2 linked regions of the Homo sapiens genome follow. The protein of the gene in region 1 purifies or fractionates together with the protein of each later gene. This does not show direct contact. Each region holds a gene or a part of one and is shown on either strand. Other genes may lie near its edges.

Region 1 (3,506 bases):
AGCAGCCGCCGCCCGGCCCCCGCCTCTGTCTAGACTGTGGAATTAATAAATGCCGCGGATTGATCACGTCGCGCATCCACTCCGGGGACAGCGCGGGGCACGGCCCGTCACGGCCGCCCGCTCTGGCCGGGGTTGGCCTCACTGCTGTGCTGCAGGGCCAGGGGCAGCGCGCGGGGCTTCGAGCCTCACCCAGGGCCGCGGACCGCTGGGGAAGGAAGCGCCGGGAGGGCCCGCGGCGCCGAGCGAGAGTGGGGCTCGGGGCTCGGCAGGCGCCAGGCCAAGGCTGGTTCCGGGAGCGGGGCGCGCCCTCGCCCGCATAACCCTAGGCCGGAGTCCGCCGCTCAACCGCCACAAGTGCCGCAGGTTTCCCGCCCAAACGGGTCCCGCCTCCTGCCCGCGGGCCTGGGCCGCCAGGTGCCCAGGGGTCGCCAATGGGGCGCTCCTGCTTCTGGGAGGGCCCTCAGCGCGCATGCGCCCAGCCCCACCCCCTCGGCCGCGCCCAATCCCCACCGGGCCCGCCCCGCCCGCAGCACGCGGAGCCCCGGCAGCCGACGCCAGCCTGACCCCTGAACTGGCCTCCGCCGGCCCTCCCGCCGCGCCAACAGCACAGAGGAGTGGCGTCGCCCCGGGTTATTATTTTTTATTAAGATCAAAATACAAGTCCCACTATGAACTGGCTGTTCTCACAATAAATAACAATAACTTACGTTTGTTTGTTCGGCAAAGGCTCACATACTCTGTCCTCCGTCGAATAACTTAAACACTTTCAAGGCAAGTCTGGTTTCTACTGTTTCCCAGCAATCATGCGCTTTGGGAGTTTGAGTGTCTGTTCCTCTGAGTTATCCCCTTCCTTTTCCCCGCTAGGAGCCCGGGCGAAGCCGCCAGGGAGCGCTGAGCTGGGGCAGGGCGGGGGTCCGCGTGGGCGAGCTCCGGGCCGGCCGAGATGGGGACACAGGTGGGGCGTGGAGAGACAGAGCGGCGGCCACGTAGAGAGGAGAGGAGAGGGCAGAGCTAACCCTGGTAAGTCCCAGATTCTGGTTTTGAAAAACTAAGAGTCCTCGGAGCAGGGGTCTGCAGTCTGGTGAAAGCAGGTTGCATCCTGGCGCCTTGGGCTGTCCAGACCGTGTCTCTCGGTACTCTCTCATAAATAACAATAGAATAATTACGAAGGCGAGAGAGCTTTCGGAACTGGAATGGCCTGAGCATGGGTGAGTCTCATGCAGGGAGCATGCGAGGTCCGCGGGCTGGCAGGGAGGGGTCCCCCTCACGTCTCCACGGGACTCGGCACCATACTGTTGGGGGTGTCCGGGAGCTGCGAGGACAGGGAGGTCACGTCGCTGCCGGAGGAGTTGCCTAGGGAGCCGGACTCGGAGAAGGAGACCTGGGGCGGCGGAAACACCGGGAAGAGGCAGGTGAAGAGGCACGCGAGCTGGTGCTCCAGGGCCGCGTGCTCCGAGTCGGAAAGTGTCCCTTGGGGACCGGCCGCCAGCTGAGAGCAAGCCCTGCGGAGAAGGAGGCCAGGTCCCCAGGCGCACGAGGGGGGGATTAGGGCGGGGGAGCGGGTTGGTTAATCCTGCGACCTCTCTTGTGAGCACTTTAATCCAGGGAGACCTGGTTTAGGGCGCGTAATGGGCCGAGGTGAGGTTTCAGAGCCCGCCACTGTTCCCCCTCCCCCACCGCCTAGGGCTGTACCCAGCCCCTCAGCCCAAGGCCACCCCCTCCCCTCTCTGCCAGGCTAAGTGGCTAAATCCCCAACCCGCAGAGTCCCGAGGTCGGGGCGGGTAGGGCAGGGCCTCACCAGCTGTTGGAAGGCGGGTTGGTCCAGGTCGCTCTGGAGGGCAAACTCGCTGAGCGCCTTCCACGGCGGCTGGTACGTCTGCACCTCCACTGCGCTGCCCTGCACGGCGTTCTCATGGCGGATGGGACTGCCCGCCACCAGGGGCGTCCCAGTCAGTCCCTGAAGGCTCTGCGGGGCAAGCAGAAGGCAGTAGGTGCTCGAGTTAGGTCTGGCCTTTTCTGCCACCTTTGAGACTGGAGCTCCAGGCCTTGAGTGATTTAGGGTCTGCATTGCTTTGCGGGGAGGCGCACACTCGATCGCATCGGAAGAGCCCTCTTTCTCCACTGGGGATCTGCGGGGGCCGCAAACTTGCCACGATAGGTCAGCCTCGGTGCTGGAAGCCAACCGCCCGGTGAGGAAAGGCAAGACCTGCACTCCCACCTTTCTGCAGCTGCCGACGGAGTGCACAACCCACCAGCCCGACTGGCGGGCGCTGCACACTGCCATGCAGCCTTGGGCTCCGCGCAGCGCCCGGAACCCGCAACGCGGGGCTGCCACTGGGACAAGGAGAAACCCCGATCCCAGACAAAATAGGAAGCCTCAAATCCAAGGGAAGCCTTGCTGTGAAGGTACAGACATACACCATCTGGAGCGCCCAGTTCTCCCTGGATCTCCCAGGGCTCGCCCAGAAAAGGGCACGCAGATACCGCGGCGGAAGCGCAGCCCCCACCCGACTCGAGCCTCCGGCCCAGCGGCTGCTCACCGTCTTGTCGCTGTGCTGCTGCTGCTGCAGCTGCTTCATGAGAATGGATTTCTTCTTGTCCTTGCAGCGCTTGTTCTGGAACCAGACGCGGATGACCCGCGGGCTCAGGCCGGTCATCTCCACCAGCTGCTCCTTCATGAGAGCGTCGGGCCGCGGGTTGGCGGCGTAGCAGGTCCGCAGAGTGTGCAGCTGCTTCTCGTTCAGCACAGTCCGCACGCGGGTCGTCTTCTCCGTCTGCTTGTGCACGTGCGGGCGCAACGCGGGCTGCCGGCCCGACCCAGCGTCTGCCAGGACAGGGTGAGGCCAGAGGTTAGCGAGGGGCCGCCACCCACCCGCCCCGAGCCCAACCTCCGGGTGGCCCAGCCCCCCGGGGCCCGATTTCGTTTCTGTTTTATTCTGTTTGTTTCGTTTAATTGTTCGTCTTCCTCTCCATCTGTTCGCCTTACTCGGAGAGAGCTGTGCATTTTCGTTCTTTCTCTCGCTCCCGGGCCGGACTGCCCCGCAGCGATCTCTCCCGAGCTCAAGCAGGGCGCGGGAGCTCGGCGACAGGCCGCTGCGGGGAGGGAGTGGCTGCTCAGGGATGTGCCTCCTCCAGTCGCAGGACCCTCGGAACGAGCGAAGCCCTCCGGAAGAAGTCGGAGTTTCAGAGGAAGAGGAAAGAGGCTTGCCCAGGACTCTGGAGAGGGAAAGGGACCGACGTGGACCCAGGGCGAGGCGCTGCCCAGGGGACTGGGTGGGAGGTGCGAATATGCCGGGGGCCTACGAGGGCCCTTCCCCTCCTTCAGAGCCCATTTGGACAGGGCCAGGCCACATGTGTAGAAGACTCATCCACGGTTATGGACGGGCCTCCAGGGCTTGCAACAGTTCCTTCCTGCCCGCCCTTGGGCTTCGGCCCCTGTCTCCTTCCTCAAGGCTCCAGGTTCCCCAGCCCAGTGGCCTCCCACCGACCAAGGTGCTGAGCAGCCG
Region 2 (5,519 bases), on another chromosome or scaffold:
GAATTAACTGCACAGAAGCACAACAGCAAGTCCATTAGCACATACCTTGCAGGATACACACTGATCTGCTGAAGATGTGTGTGGTGAGAAGTGAACTGTGCACAAAGACTGAGCAGCGTTAGCAGAGGTGATGGGGTAAGGGGGAGGTGGGGAGCCAGAAAGGACCACAGAAACCCACGGACTGTGGAAACCCATAATTTGCAGGTATAGTAATAATATTCTACCTTAACAAGACCAAGGGACATCTCATAGCTTATTCAAATAACTAAACATACAACCTTTGGCCTTCTTAATTACTTCATACCACTAAACTGGCTCTCACAAACATTCCTAATAAAGACCATTAATTGCCCTAAAGGTAAAGTTCAGCAATGGGACCAGGGTTGCTCTTCTGCTTATAACTAGGATTTCATGACTGAGATAGGAACAGTACAGAATAAACCTACATGAGTAGTTATTCCTTAACAGCATGGAATATGCTTTGAGAAGGTACTTTTATGTGGTTTCCCTAACCATCACCTTACTGATCAACTCCAATACAAAGAGTCTACGCTTCTGGGTCACATGGCAACCGGTATGCCCAATACTAAACAATCAGGAATCCAAATGAACAAAAAAGGCAGTTCAATTTTGTAAGAAACAATATATTTTATTTTTCTGACACCACAGCTCTGGCGAGTGGTTTTGTACCAAATTTAATGGAGGTTACACAGAACGTCTTACGCATGGGAGGGGGAGGAAAGGGAAGGAACCACAAAATTTAAAACAAACAGAAACAAAATCCTGGATAGCTTTTAGCATCTGTTCCACTCCCACATTAATAAAATTCACTTGGGAATTCCTAATAAAAGGAGAACAGAAAACAAGGTGGGCAGGGAAGGGTATGATGGGAAAGAGAAAGACTTAGGGGGAAAAAAGACCAGAGAGCATCCCAAGGACAGACCTTTCCCTCTCAGAGCCAAGAGGACGCTCGGCATGGAAGGCGAGGCTTTGCTAGATTTATTTCCCCAAAATAACACTGTGTATTGCAGCTGCCAAAGGGAAAGAGAGAGGGAAGCAGAGGGTCACCAGCGGGGGGCACAAAGGAAGGAAACACTTAACTGAGGAGACAGAGCAAAATCGGAGAGAGAAAACAAGAGAAAAATGTGCCAGTGGGTTGGTATATTGGGAGACAAGACAGTGCTGAAGAGCACTTGAACTGAAAAACAAATGTCCTAAGAGTCATTATTTTTCAAAAGAAAAATCTCCCCCCTCCCCCCACCCCTCGCTGAACTTAGTTCCTTTTTTTGTGCTTTTCATTAATACTCTGCTCTGAGGTCGTAGTTTGGTTTTTCTATACACTGCAGTTGAAAGAAAATAGTCCAAAGGTCTGAAGATGGATTCTCCACCTAAAGTAAACAGCCCAGCATTCCTGTTCTCCTCTTGCCCCAAAGACTAAAGTCTCTGCTAAAATCCCTTTTACAATATAGTACAGTACACAGAAAAAAATAAAGCCCAAATCAAAAAAACAAAAACAGAAAAGAATCCTGGGAGAAGCCAGTCCAAAGGACGTAAACATACAGAGAACGGTGCAACACATGACCGATGGCAATTCTCAAAGCACAGCTACAGATTCCCAAAAGTAGGTGCCATCATTGATACCCAAGTCCACAAAAATAATTTTTAAAAAATAAATCTTAAAAAAAACACACCTGTTGATTAAATGAATAATTTGTTTTCAGGTAAATCCATACATTCTCGAGTTCCCCCCTCCCCCAAAGCAGCCCTCGGGTCTCTGTTCTCCTATTGCATGACCAATAGTAAGTACTCCTGGAACTCCCTCAAAGCAGCTCTCAGGACCTGGAATCTCATCTTGACAAGGATCGGCACATCCCATCTTAGCAGCTTAAAACATCATGTTTCCTGGGTTGCCAGGTCCTTGGCTAAATCCACCCATGCCCACGTCAGCAGCCATGCCCCGGGGCCTCATCTGTGGGGGGATCATGATGTTCTGTTGGGGTCCCATCATGCCCTGCATGGACATCATCATGCCTGGAGAGCCCACAGGCCCAGGGTGGGTGTAGAGCCCGGCAGGCCCCCGATCCTTGCCAGGAATCATGCCCACGGCAGCAGCTGGATTGCTCATCAGGGTGGGCTGGCCGGGCATTGTAGATTGTGCTGGTGACATCATCCGATGGTGAGGTCCCATCATGCCTTGTTGGAGAAAGGCTGGTGGTCTCATGGGGTTGTGGCCTGGCATGGATGGAGCTGTACCAAGAGGGATGTCCGGAGTTCCCACTGGCCCTGGACCTCCCATGCCAGGTAATGCTAGTCCCATTCTGGGGGCTTGTTCGCCCATCATCCCCTGCATGTGTGAAAACCCAGGTCCAGGACCCTGGGGCTGTTTACGGCCTGGAACTTCCCCTCGAGGGAAATATTGCAGCGTCTGGCTGGGCTTCTCAGATGGAATAATGCGGGATAGATCAAACTCAGGTATTCCGGTGGCTCCAGGTCGGATGACCTCCTGCAGATCTGGGTCTGTAAACACCGAAGGCATGCTGTTCCCCAGGACAGTGAAGGAGTCAGGACCCCCGGGGCCTCCAGGCTTGCAAAGTGCTGCATCTGCTGAACTTTGGGGCAGGTTGCTGGGGCGGCCAAGGGGGCCTTCTCCTGGGAAACCCATCCCTCCTGGGAAGCTGCCCTGCCCCCCACTGGGGCCATTGTGAGGGAATGGAACCTGCTGTGGGGGAGACTGTACTGGAGGGAAGCCCTGGGGGAAGCCCATCCGTCCTTGAGGTACCATCGGTGGCTCCTGGGACCCATGCCCCATGATAGGATTGTGTGACATCAAGCCAGGCCCCATTGGGACCCCATGAGGAGGTATGTTGGGTCCCACGGCATTTGGAGAGGGCATCTGATTGGAGTGAGAAAGTGGCTGGGTCATTCCCATTGGGCTGAGGGTTGGCATCGGAACCACGGGGTTTGGACCTGAAATTCGAGGATTCTGTGTATTAATGCCCATTCCTAGAAAAATAAAGATATCAAAGGAATCAACTTAACCAAAAATCAACTCAGAAAAACTATAATAAATTAACAAAAAAACTATTGTGCATCCAATGTGCATAGTATAATGCTGGGAAAACATACAACACACAATCCCTGCCATCAATAAGATCATAATACATCTGGGGACATACAAACCAAGAGCTCTACAGGACAATATATTATTGAGTCTTAAACTGTGTGTAGAAGATAGCAAGGGAGAAATTGTCATGTGTGAAAAGTTATAAATTAGCACACAAATGAGTTTCGCCTTCCTCATTGGAGATATTTAATACAGAAGAAAACAATTTGCCTGAATGACTCAAGTACGGTCCTTTTGGAGAAATCAGTACTACAATCCCAATGATCAGGAATCATAACAAAGAAACTAAACAGGTAATTTTTCAATTGGCATTTGGCATTATTTTATAAGTGCCTTATAGAGAAAGCATTTAAAACTCGAGATTCCACGAAATGTTCAAGAAATAACTTTTAATAGAAAAGGAAAGTAACATATTCTAATACAGTCCCTGGGACATTGAAGTATTTGGTGTCTCTGTTGGAATTACCACCGAGTGTGGCAGGGGGCTTATGCTGTTCCTGGTACATGTACTAACCCAGTTAATTAGAGTTACTGATAAATAAAGAGCATTTGTAACAATCAGAATAGAACTGGAACCAGAAACTCATGGCTGAAAAGTCATGGTCTCTTTGCTGATTGCTTTCACCATCCTGATCATTTTCTGTTAGTCAGGTGGCAGGAGTCGAGGTGAGGGGTGGGTATAGGAATGAAGGTGTACCGAATGTGTAGGGAAGGGAAGGATTTTATTATCTCCCTAGTCCTAAAAAAAAAAAGGCTTGTCTAGGAAACAGGGGCTTTCCACTGTCTGAAATCCTGTGGCTGCTTGTGGTTTGAGGCTGCTCTTCCAGAAAAAAAAACTTGAGGACTAAAGACATTCCAATCAGCCTGTTAGAAACTACTCTCTATATTGCTACATGAGGACCCAAAGAGAAAAACAAAAACAACAAACCCTCAAAACCATCCAGGTACACAGAAGCATCAGAACTATAAAGAAACCTGCTTTCTTACAAACAAATAAGGAATCAAGCTAATAAGAAATTATCTTCCTCTAGTCAAGACACTTTCATTCTACTGAAACTACCTTAGATGGAAGATTTTTTCTACTTGTTGAACTTCCACCTATTCAGGTGTATAGCCATTGAGAAAACGCTTCAAGAGGTTTCTCTTTGGTCTAGCACTCACTCCACAACCTGCCTTTCTGATTTCTTACCTGGCATATTATTCATTGATGGCAAGTTGGGAGAACGAGCTGGAGGGGAGTCGTCATCTGAGCTGGCCACAGTCTTGATAGCATCATGGTATAACGGGGTGGAACTGGGCATTGCAAACTTGGACATTCGAGACATCATAATAGAGAGTGGGTTCTGGGAAAGGGTTGGCTCTGGAGGCATGGTATAAGGTGTACTAGAGGGAAGACTTCCAGGGATATTCACAGAGGCAGGCTGGCTGGCTGTAGGAGGTGGGGGGCCACCTAAAAGGAAGCAAAATAAAACAAAACGGGCAGGGAATTAGATTCCTTTTGAAGGGTATTGGGCCCTATGATTATGAACTAGCAAGGCCAGGAATGAGACAGATGAACAGGACAGTGTTATTAGATCCCAGACACAAATCATCAATCTTCTAGTCAAGCTCTGTGTGAGTGCAGAGGGAGACTGTGGTGTGATATGGAGGTGACATGACCGATCAGCAGATGTGAAGACAAACACACCAGGAATGTGTTAGAAATATTAGTTCAAGCTTGGGGAAAATATGGTTTACAGACAACCATTTCACTGAATAGAATGTGAAATAAGTGGATCTCTTTCCCTTGCCAATCACAGTTTAGAATTCGACTCAGGTATTAGTATGCTATGAAGCCAGACTAGTGATATGATCCCAGGTACTAACGACATCACCCTACACGCATTCTTGATTAATTTCCACAACCAAGATGTTTGAACCAAGAAGGTCTGAGGGGGCTGTTCCACTGTACTGCTTCAGTGAACTGCTACCCTACAGAGAGGCACTTTAGGCTGGTAGGATAAATCTTCTATCTTGCTCTGATTCTAGTCTTTCTCAGGTGGAGACAGCACCAACCTAGTATTTACACCTTGGCACTACTTCCACTGACCACCTCTAGTCCCACTCACAAAACCATCATCATCAGCAAGAATCTCTCCCAGGAAGAAAATCCTCCTAAATTGTAGCTGATCTGTGAAAACAGTGGTCTATCAAGGAGAAGATTTTGGAACTGTTTCTGTGGTCAACAGGTATTTACAAGAACCACACAAGTCTTACAGCAGCTTCCCCTCTCTCTGCTTAGGATTATACCCAGAATCTCGATTCAAGGGCAGCCCCTTGCAGTGGGTCCAGTATTTAAAGAAGCCACATTCATCCACTGTTAAGACATTTTATTGCATTTGTTCATTGTGCGAAT

The links.
Region 2: the proteins of ISL2 (region 1) and BCL9 purify together in Homo sapiens (affinity purification with mass spectrometry; 2 studies listed by BioGRID and IntAct, with this or other methods). This does not show direct contact.

Annotation. Positions count from the first base shown.
Region 1 is NC_000015.10:76,339,594-76,343,099, reverse strand, and holds the end of ISL2 (insulin gene enhancer protein ISL-2), read right to left. Parts: intron 2,825-3,506; coding exon 2,541-2,824; intron 1,967-2,540; coding exon 1,799-1,966; intron 1,382-1,798; coding exon 1,265-1,381; 3' UTR 625-1,264; downstream 1-624. Other genes in the region: uncharacterized protein LOC124903532, read left to right, coding at 1-320. UniProt on the Homo sapiens protein: Transcriptional factor that defines subclasses of motoneurons that segregate into columns in the spinal cord and select distinct axon pathways.
Region 2 is NC_000001.11:147,621,326-147,626,844, reverse strand, and holds the end of BCL9 (B-cell CLL/lymphoma 9 protein), read right to left. Parts: intron 4,575-5,519; coding exon 4,314-4,574; intron 3,004-4,313; coding exon 1,886-3,003; 3' UTR 629-1,885; downstream 1-628. UniProt on the Homo sapiens protein: Involved in signal transduction through the Wnt pathway. Promotes beta-catenin's transcriptional activity.